Linked DNA regions of Homo sapiens. The protein of the gene in region 3 interacts with the protein of the main gene of each other region in a pairwise test. Each region holds a gene or a part of one and is shown on either strand. Other genes may lie near its edges. The genes, in order: FAM221B, RHOBTB3 and EFHC2.

Region 1 (2,999 bases), on a different chromosome or scaffold from region 3:
CAGGAGGAGATAAGAGTGTCCTATATTTGCCGCACAAGAATTATAATAAGCAAAGGAGTATGTATTCATTGTTCTTTTCTAATCGGAAAAGGTGTGTGATACAGTTAGCTCGGTGCCTGGTGTTTTCTTTTTTTTTCTTTTTTTCTTTTTTCTTTTTTTTTTTTTTTGAGACGGAGTCTCGCTCTGTCGCCCAGGCTGGAGTGCAGTGGCGCGATCTCGGCTCACTGCAAGCTCCGCCTCCCGAGTTCACGCCATTCTCCTGCCTCAGCCTCCCGAGTAGCTGGGACTACAGGCACCCGCCACCACGCCCGGCTAATTTTTTGTATTTTTATTAGAGACGGGGTTTCACCGTGTTAGCCAGGATGGTCTCGATCTCCTGACCTCGTGATCCTCCTGCCTCGGCCTCCCAAGGTGCTGGGATTACAGGTATGAGGCACCAATAAGTCAGGTTTGCACTGCTGGAATATATATTTTTGACATAAGAAACGTGGGGTCACAAAATACTAATATTCTCAGACGCTAGGTAAGTTTTAGTCTGATATCACATAGGACAAGTTACCACTGTTTCTTTGGTTTTTCTTTTTTTCTTTTTTTTTTTTTTAAACACATGACCTGATACATATAGGTGGTCAGTAATTGTTGAATGAATAACATTTGGTGTTTCCTGTCTTTTTTTCATAATATGTAATATGTATTGCATATGATACTAACCCATGTGTAATCAATTTTTCATATTTTTACAGTCTACGTAAATATAGTTTGTATTGGCTGCTTATTATTTCCTTCAATGAGTTTATCATAGTAATCCTAACTCTATTGTTGACTATTAGTTGAATTAGTTTTAGGTGAATGGTTATCATGGGGCATATAACCACTGTTGGGGAACTTTGCTTCTAGAGATATAACAATCTCTTTTGTATAGCTATATTATTGTTAGAAAATCCTTTCTCCTCTAAAGGGCAGACATTTGATTCTGTGATTTTCCCCAGGGATCCTAGCAGTCCAGATTGCATTCCTTCCCTTGGAGGAACAGATGGCCCCCCTAATTGTGAGGAAATGTAGAATGGCCTCTTCTCTGGGCCCCAGAGGCTGCAGTTCTCTGTGGTGCCTCTGGGACACTGGGAGACCCTAGAGTTGCCCTGGAGAAGGGCGAGAGATAAGTGGATCTGGGATCTAGGAAGAGGAAGGAAGCCAGTCTGGAGGATAGGTGGATACAAAGCACTTTGAAATTAGTTATTTCTTTGGTTCTCATAGAAAGTAGGCAACACAGAGGTTATTCCTGTTTTACAGGTCCAGAAACTCAGCCTAAAGAGGGACAGTGACTTGCCTGGGTTCACAGAGCCCATTAGTGCTGGAATCTCCTACTCCCATAAGAACCTATGGACTCCCTTGTGACTTCCCACATTCACTGATTTTGATCCTTGGCCCACAGTTTTCTCTACTTCAAGCACTTATCACCTTCACTTGCCCTCATCTGAAAGATGTTATGCTCTGCAGCCTCTGAACACTGTCTCTTGTACTCCAACCCCTGCCCCTACGTCTGCTACTGTACCTCATTAGAGACTTCTCTTCCTTTGACTGCTCCCTTTTTCAATCTGTCATTTGCCTCCTGGCATCACTTTCTTTCCCTATTGGTGCTGTATGCTCCCTTCACATCCTCATGCCTTCTTTTGCTTAGTTTTCCTGATCTTCCTCCCTGACACCCTCACATCATCAACCCATTAAATATTTGGATTCTCTGCTTCTCTAACTAGGTTCTCACTTCCAACTGTGCCCGAATCCTGAACTACCCACTGATGAGGTTTTTCTCCAGTTCCCTACATTAGCCTTCCCAAACCTTCCCCTTTCTCTTCTTGTCTCCTGCTCCCTACTCTTATCCCTCTTCCCCTGGACCCCAGCCATTGGCCTTATCTCCTACTTCACAGGGCATATAGAAGCCATCAGAGGGGAACTTCCACAGGTTCTTGTTCCCTGAAACTCTAGGAAGGCTCCATCCTCTTCCTTCGTCTTGGTCATAGGAAGTGGTGTTTCTCCTGTCCAGAGAAAATCCCTTCACCTCTGCTTTGACCTCATCCCTTTCCTCCATCTCTGGGATCTTGTCTCACCAGGCATCTCTTCTCTCTCTTCTGGGTCCTTCAAGGTCCTTTAGTCTACTGGCCTCTTCCCCTTTTCCTTCCTACAAAAGTACTTCCTTGACTCCACAACTCCCTCTGGATATTGTCTGACTTTACTTTTGTACTTTTCATCCAAGCTTCTTTAAGAGACTCCTTGAAACTCACTGCTGTTTGACTCCTGCCTCCACTGCACCAGTGTGAAACTGCACTCTCCGATGTTCCCAAAGATCTTCTAATTGCAAAACCCAATGGACACTTTTCAGTCTTTATCTTATTGGTGCCCCAACTGCATCTAACATCACTTCCCACTCTATCCTTCTTGAAACTTCCTCCCTTCTTGACTTCCTTGAAGCCACTTTCCTTCAACAGGCAGCTTGAATGTGAGTGTGATGGAGGCAGATGGCCAGATCCAGGCTTTCTCCTGTGTCTAATAGGTGTCAACTCTAAGTTATTAGGCAGTCTCTCCCTGGGCTGGGATCTACCTGCCCCATATAGAGCCAAGTCAGGTTCCAATGACTCCTCTTTTATTGCTGATCTGGGCCAGACTCACAAAGGCCTGTGCCAGTTGCTGACAGTGTCTGTCCCTGGAGGAAGAAAGAGCAGAGGTGAAAGGGTCAGGTATGGGGGTCAGAAGGGAGGCCAGGCTGGAGACCGTGTGAACCAGGGAGCCCCGGGGGACTAGGGTGGGAGCTGGGAAGGCCAGAGGGCCCCTGTATCTGCAGGGCCTAGAAGTCAGAGTTGCTGAGGATGGCTTCTCGGAGCACAGCCATCTCTGCAAAAGGTACATAGTCTGCTCCTGGGGGTGAAAACCAGTGCAGATGTGGGATGCAGGTAGGTGGGTGGTGGGGAGGTGGGCTGAGGGAGCGCGCTAGTCCTGGAAGGGAT
Region 2 (3,657 bases), on a different chromosome or scaffold from region 3:
AGGTTTTAGTGATTTTCCTGCCTCAGCCTCCCCAGTAGCTGGGACTACAGGCGCCCGCCACCACACCTGGCTAATTTTTTTTTATTTTTAGTAGAGATGAGGTTTCACCATGTCCGCCAGGATGGACTTGATTTCTTGACCTCGTGATCCGCCCACCTCGGCCTCCCCAAGTGCTGGGATTACAGGTGTGAGCCACTGCGCCGGCCCTTCTTTTTAAAATGGAATAATAGGCCGGGTGTGATGGCTCACATCTGTTATCCCAGCACTTTGGGAGGCCAAAGTAGGAGGATCATTTGAGCTCAGGAGTTCAAGACCAGCCTGGGCAACATAGTGAGACCTGTCTCTACAAAAAAAAAAAAAAAAAAAAAAAAGAAGAAGAAGAAAGGAAAGAAAAAAAAGATAAAATGGAATAAAAGTGCAGAATGCTGACTCCCTCGAGGCTTTTCCTAACCATTCTATTCTATGGTGGATGCTACGGTCAGCATGTTTTTTTAATTGTTGTTTTTTGTTGGTGGGGGGTGTTTAGATCATTAAAGAAATGGTTTCATCATCCACTTTCTCTCATGTCCCTTTTCTCATCAGCTGGCATATTCCAGGCCATGTGTCTCCTGATCTGTGCCGAGATGTACCAAGTGTCCAGACTGCAGCACATCTGTGAGCTGTTCATCATTACCCAGCTGCAGAGCATGCCAAGCAGGGAACTGGCATCCATGAACCTTGATATAGTTGACCTGCTTAAAAAGGCCAAGGTAATTGACTCTGTGTATCTGATAGCCTAGTTTTTTATAAAATATTTTTCAAATTATACTATTTTAAAATTTATCATTTTTTAACATACGTTAATACTAGTCTTAGTTTGGAAGTTTGGCTAATGAGGCTAAAGTGCCTTCACAACAGTTTATCTGGCTAGATAATTTTGAAGCGTTAGGGTTTGTGTGCAGTCCCTTTTATAAGGAGGCAAAATGTCCAGATACGGAATTTTTTTAACTAAATAGTGGCCCTTAGTAGAGTCATTTGAATGTGGTGCTATACTATGTCACATAGGCATTGTAGGAAATAGAATTTATGTTGAATTTCCCCAAACAATCACATCTTCAGGTTCCTAAAAGGGAAATGACAGAATTGGTCCATATATACTGATAGCGATGGTTAAGCTAAACTAATTTACTTCTTCATTTTTTCATCCATATAATGAACATGTTTTGAAGTTTCAGTTGTATGTAGGAGATATTGGTGTGCCTCATTTATCCTTGCAGAATGCCTTTTGTTTTCATGTCTCACCTTATTAGCAATCACTGCCGTATGTGTACATGCTTCTTCTGGGCCTCTTGTAAGCTCGGAGTCTTTTGTTTTCAATAATTATATCATTACTGATTTTAGAGAACGGGGGTGGGGGAGTTACATAATTAAGTTAATTTTAAGTAACTGCAGTTACAGAGGCCCTAAATTATGAATCAGAGCCAGGTCTGTAAATAAACTAGGACTACTGTGTTGAAATCTACTTCCCAAACCCCCAGATGTGCTCACAGTCAAAAACCTGCCAAATCCTTATTCCCACTTTCTTTCATTCCTGGAAGCAGAAAGCTTATTCAGATGGGCCATCCTACCGTTGGCCATTCTGCCATTCCATCCACTGCCCGAGACAGTTTCAGCACTTGTGGTAGTTATGGCACACTCTTGTGTACTCAACTTGTGGTAAGCCGAGCCCTCTAGGTTTTTTTCACAGGAATATATTTGTTCAATCACTACAGAGTGTCAGTACTTCTTGAACTATTATCTGGCATCCAACATGTCTATACCTATCAACTTTGACGTCCAGGGTTACAAAAGCATGACAACTTTTATCTCCATCCACATTGCTAAAATGGAGCCACATGATGGGGCAAATTCCAGATCTGTGACAGCTGAATGCTTGCCTCCAAGCTGAAACGAATTCATTCATCAACACTTCTGTTTATAGAAGGGAATTTATTTGAAGCATCTAGGTCTTCTCCTACTATCTCCTTAACTATTTTGGACTTCATTTCTCTCATAATCAAGTCTTACGATCACATGTATTTAATTAGGGCTAAAAACAAATTTAAAAATTGAGTAGGGCCAGGCGTGGTGGCTTACGCCTGGAATCCCAGCACTTTGGGAGGCCGAGGCTGGCGGATCACGAGGTCAGGAGATCGAGACCATCCTGGCTAACACAGTGAAGCCCAGTCTCTACTAAAAATACAAAAAAAAATTAGCTGGGTATAGTGGCGGGTGCCTGTAGTCCCAGCTACTTGGGAGGCTGAGGCAGGAGAATGGCGTGAACCCTGGAGGCGGAGCTTGCAGTGAGCCGAGATCGTGCCACTGCACTCCAGCCTGGGTGACAGAGTGAGACTCCGTCTCAAAAAAAAAAAAAAATTGAGTAACACTGATCTCTTTTTGTAAAACGTTTACATTCATCTCATGATAAATAGCTCCCCTCTAAATTTAGTTTACAATTTTTAAAATTCTTTCTAGTAGTTTCACAATCTCAGTTCATTTTTGATGTATCATTTTCATACTATTCTAACAAGTTGTTCATACTTTTTAAAAAATTGGACACAAGTTTCTTTTTCCTTATCTTTTAGTATCTTCTTAAATTGTTTATGTATAAGAGAACTTCCCGTGTGGTCACATTGATTTCTTTAGGTGCCTCCCCTCACTGCCCCCCTACACTTGGTTCCTCATCAGAATCATTTTTGATTGCACTGTCAGAAATTCTTGACTTGTTTTCCCTGATTCTCTGGTTTCTGACTCTGTGATTATCCTTATCTTTTCCCCTTGAATTTCAAACAATCTAAGATACAAGCTCATTTTGAATTTTGTTTCTGAAGACTTTTTATTTTCTAAGATTAAGCCTAAATTTACCAGTTTTCCTGTATTCTTTTCCTGGTGGTTCCTAATTTGGCAATTGTGAATTCCAGATAACAGAAGTTTTCTTCCCAAGTTTTCTTTGAAGTTCCTAGTTTGAGATTTCACTTCACCAGTCAGTTCACCCTGTTGGTCAGAATTTGGTTAACTTTTGCCTTGCCATTTCTCTGACTTTTAGGAGTGAAATTGTCTTCTGGCAGAATTAGACTCCCAGTAGCTCTCCAAATAATCAAAATTTCTGAACACTCTGCCAGTTTTGTACTGTGTGTCAGGAAACATCATTCATACTTTCTTAGATAGATGAGCAGTGTGGGTATTCTCTCACTTCTCTGTCCATTTTCCCCTAACCTCTCTCAGTTCTTTACCATGATTTACCTTCAGGTTTCCATCAAGGAGGACTCTTAAAATACAAGAGTTGAGGTGGAGATTCCGTATCTCTACTCCTGTTTAAACCCTATCTGTTCAAACTTTGGTGATTCCTATGAAGTTGTATTTATTCTTGTATTAAAAATTTTAATGCATCTTCTTATTTATAATCTATATGTTAATATTTGGCTATCTGAGGCACAAGTTGTATTTCTGAGAGTTTCCAGGTACTTTCTTGTGAGTTTATGGGTATTTTCTCCACGTTCTTCTTGTAGCTCTTAAGTTCTATTGCATTTGGTTTATGGTTTTTTAATGCCTTTTTAAAAATTCTGTTGCTTATTTCAGTTTGAACCCATTTTCTTACGTCAACACATATCCTTCTAAAACCTAGTTTTTACAGTGAGA
Region 3 (3,657 bases):
TATTGAACCCTCTTTTCCCTTTCCCACCTCCAAAAGTAGATGGTGAAAAAAAAAACAAGATAATTTCCCAGCATTCCTTGTAGTAAAGGATGGCCATGTGCATCAATTTTAGCAAATAAGATGGAAGGAGGGAATCTACTGGGGGGCTCCTGGAAAACATTTTGTTTTCTCATATAAGAAGAGCTGTTTCCCCTCCCTCTCCTTCCTGCTTGTCTTGAACATGGTTACATGTAGTTGTGATGACTGGAACTGAGGCAACTATTTTGCAACTATGAGGTCACAAGCCTAAGAAAGAAAAGCCAATATTCTGAAGATGGCAGAATGCAGAGATAAAAAGAGCCTGGGTTCTTTATGACATTCATCAGTCACTGCCTAAATCTGAAACTGCTACACCTCTAAAGTTCTTATGAGAAAATTAATTTGGCTTAAACCACTGTTAGTCAGGTATTCTGTGACTTATAGTCAAATGTACCCTAGGTGACAGAGCTACGAAGTTCAGTACAGAATGCATGGTGACCAAAATTAGGTGTTTGAATCCTACATAGGCAAAGAGACTCTAATTCCTGAAATTCAAATGAACATTTAGGAATAGCAATGGAATATGTTATTTCCAAAGTATGGATGGCAGCTTCAATAAGCGGCCCAATCTGAAATAATGTAATTTCAAGGATATTTTAATAGTTACTGGGAACAAAGTGACAGAATTCTTTATATCAAAACTATCCTGTGATCTAGCATAGTAGACAGCAATTGTTTTGTCTGCCCAGCAATCCCATACCACCAAAACTGGATTATTTGCCTTTTTGTTTGTTTGTTGGCTTTTTGAAATGAAGTTGCACTCTTGTTGCCCAGGCTGGAGTGCAATGGTGCGATCTCGGCTCACCACAACCTCTGCCTCCCAGGTTCAAGTGATTCTCCTGTCTCAGCCTCCCGAGTAGCTGGGATTACAGGCATGCGCCACCACGCCCGGCTAGTTTTGTATTTTTAGTAGAGACAGGTTTCTCCATGTTAGTCAGGCTGGTCTCAAACTCCTGACCTCAGGTGATCCGCCTGCCTCAGCCTCCCAAAGTGCTGGGATTACAGGCATGAGCCACCGCACCTGGCCTATTTGTCTTTTTATTATTGAGTTTTGGGAGTTATTTACATATTCTGAATATAGTCCCTTATCAGATAATATGCTTTATAAATATTTCCTCCCACACTGTCAGCTGCTTTTTCACTTTTCTGATAGTGTCTTTTGAAGCACAGTTTGGCTATTTATTGCAACATTATTGGATAACAAAAGACTGGAAATAATGTAACTGTACACCAAAAGGGGATGGTTGAATAAACTATTGTAAGTCTACAAAATGGAGTACTATGTAACTATAAAAAGAAATGAGGAAGAGCCCTATATACCACTACCAAGTGATCTCCAAGATATACTGTTAAAATGAAAAAAGGAAGGTTCAAAAGACTGTGTAGATTATGCTACCAAGTATTGAATAAAAGGGGAACATGTGAATAAATTTAACAATTTGCTGTTTTAAAAATTAAAAAAAAAAGAAAGAAGAGAAGGAGGAAGAGAAAGAGGATAACCTCAAACTAAATAAAGTTTTTTCTTTAAGTTATTATGGAGAGAGGGAGAGAATAAGATTGAAGAGACAGAGATAAAAGCTAGAGCTCTCTGAAAGTAACTTACTTTGCAAATTTGACTTTGAGACCATACAAATGCCTTTTTTTAAGTTCAGAAACAAAAGCACAATGAAACAAATGAACCTAACTAGATACTGAGTTGGTGACTTAACCATACCGACAGCAATGATTTAAATGAAACTAAAACCCAGTAATTTGACTATACATTCCTGGTGGGATATACTCTCACAACAGAAATAGCTATAAAGAAATCTTAAACTATTTTCAAAACTCAAATTGTTAATAATGTTATTATTAATTAAAAATTATTATATGGTTGTATATTTTTATTTATGTTAGGATAAGTAATTCAGCTAATGTACTTATGAAGCAAGATTACATGTAAATATATAAAATCAAAGAAGTAAAAACCCTATAATCCTTAATTTGCATTGAAAACAATAGTTTTTGAACTCATGTTATATTTTATCCTTAAATATATGTACATATTTTTTAGCCTTGCTTTAAGAGAATGAAAATTCAAGCCATAGACTGGAACAAAATATTTACAGACCATACATTCAATAATAGACTTGCACCCAACTTGTATCCAGACTATATTAAAAATGACTTTCAAAACTCATCAGGCGGATCGCCTGAGGTCAGGAATTCAAGTAAGGAAACTCCCCAATTAAATATGAGTAGAAGACACGAACAGACATTTCACCAAAGGGGATATACGGATGGCAAATAAGCACATAAAAAGATGTTCAACATCATAGCCATTAGGGAAATAAAAATTAAAATCAAGAGGAGATACCAGGCCGGGTGTGGTGGCTCAGGCCTGTAATCTCAGCACTTTGGGAGGCCGAGGTGGGTGGATCACCTGAGGTCAGGAGTTCAAGACCAGCCTGGCCAACATGGTGAAACCCCGTCTCTACCCAAAATACAAAAATTAGCCGGGCGTGGTGGCACACACCTGTAATCTCAGCTACTCGGGAGGCTGAGGCAGAAGAATAGCTTGAACTGGGAGGCAGAGGGTTGCAGTGAGCCAAGATCGCGCCACTACACTCCCCTGGGCGACAGAGTGAGACTCAGTCTCAAAAAAAAAAAAGAGAGAGAGAGAAAAGAGGAGATACCACTATACACCTATTAAAATGGCTAAAATCCAAAACACTGGCAATACCAATTGCTTACAAGGATTTGGAATAACAGAAATTCTCAATCATTGCTGGTGGGAATGCAAAATGGTAATTTCTTATCAAGATAAACACACACCTACCATATGGCCAGTTCAAAATTTACATAAAAGTAAGCATCCTGCCATTCATAGGAGAGCAATGACCATTTTGCTATAATTTTCAACTTCTTATACATGTAAGCAAAGCTTTCCTTGTTTAACAAGTATTGAAAAGGCCAGAAATCTTCTCATTCCAGTTGAAAATGAAATTGATGTGTGCTTATTTCAAGCTTGACCCGGAATTATTTATGTGGCAAAATATAAACACAGATTTCAGAGTGGAGAGGTAAATTTTATTATTTATTTTTAGCTTTTAAAAAATAAGACTGTTATGTACATACAGGTCTATAAAGAAATCAAGATTATAATTTTGTAACTGCCTATATTTAAGCCCAATCATGTCAGTCAGTAAAAGAACCTAATTTTTAAGTCTTGTATAAAATTATATCTTAGGTTATATTTTTACTCATAATGCTTTGTCATATAGTTTTAGTAGCTTTATTATGTAACATTGTCAATACATTTTGATGTTGAAAACAGCATTAATTACGAGTTTACAACCTTTATTTAAATTAAATCATCTTAGCCTACTTTTTGAAAAAGTAAATTCCATCTTAGATATAAACAGAAATAACTTGAATTATTTAACATGTTTATATTATGCTGACTGAAAAGTTTTTTGAATGTATGGAAAGGAAAGAAAGGTAAGCTAAGTTTAACTATCTGTTTTGGGTTTTTTTTCCCTCAAAAAAGCTGGTAAAAAGTCCTTTTCAGTTTTTAATAGGGGAGAAAACTACTTTTGT

Evidence for each region.
Region 1: the proteins of EFHC2 (region 3) and FAM221B interact in binary tests that used the Homo sapiens proteins (3 or more experiments, as listed by UniProt).
Region 2: the proteins of EFHC2 (region 3) and RHOBTB3 interact in binary tests that used the Homo sapiens proteins (3 or more experiments, as listed by UniProt).

The regions. Positions count from the first base shown.
Region 1 is NC_000009.12:35,815,809-35,818,807, forward strand, and holds the end of FAM221B (protein FAM221B), read right to left. Parts: exon of another isoform or gene 2,699-2,999; coding exon 2,661-2,698; coding exon of another isoform or gene 2,639-2,660; 3' UTR 583-2,638; downstream 1-582.
Region 2 is NC_000005.10:95,783,215-95,786,871, forward strand, and holds part of RHOBTB3 (rho-related BTB domain-containing protein 3), read left to right. Parts: intron 1-582; coding exon 583-749; intron 750-3,657. UniProt on the Homo sapiens protein: Rab9-regulated ATPase required for endosome to Golgi transport. Involved in transport vesicle docking at the Golgi complex, possibly by participating in release M6PRBP1/TIP47 from vesicles to permit their efficient docking and fusion at the Golgi.
Region 3 is NC_000023.11:44,333,669-44,337,325, forward strand, and holds part of EFHC2 (EF-hand domain-containing family member C2), read right to left. Parts: intron 1-3,657. UniProt on the Homo sapiens protein: Microtubule inner protein (MIP) part of the dynein-decorated doublet microtubules (DMTs) in cilia axoneme, which is required for motile cilia beating.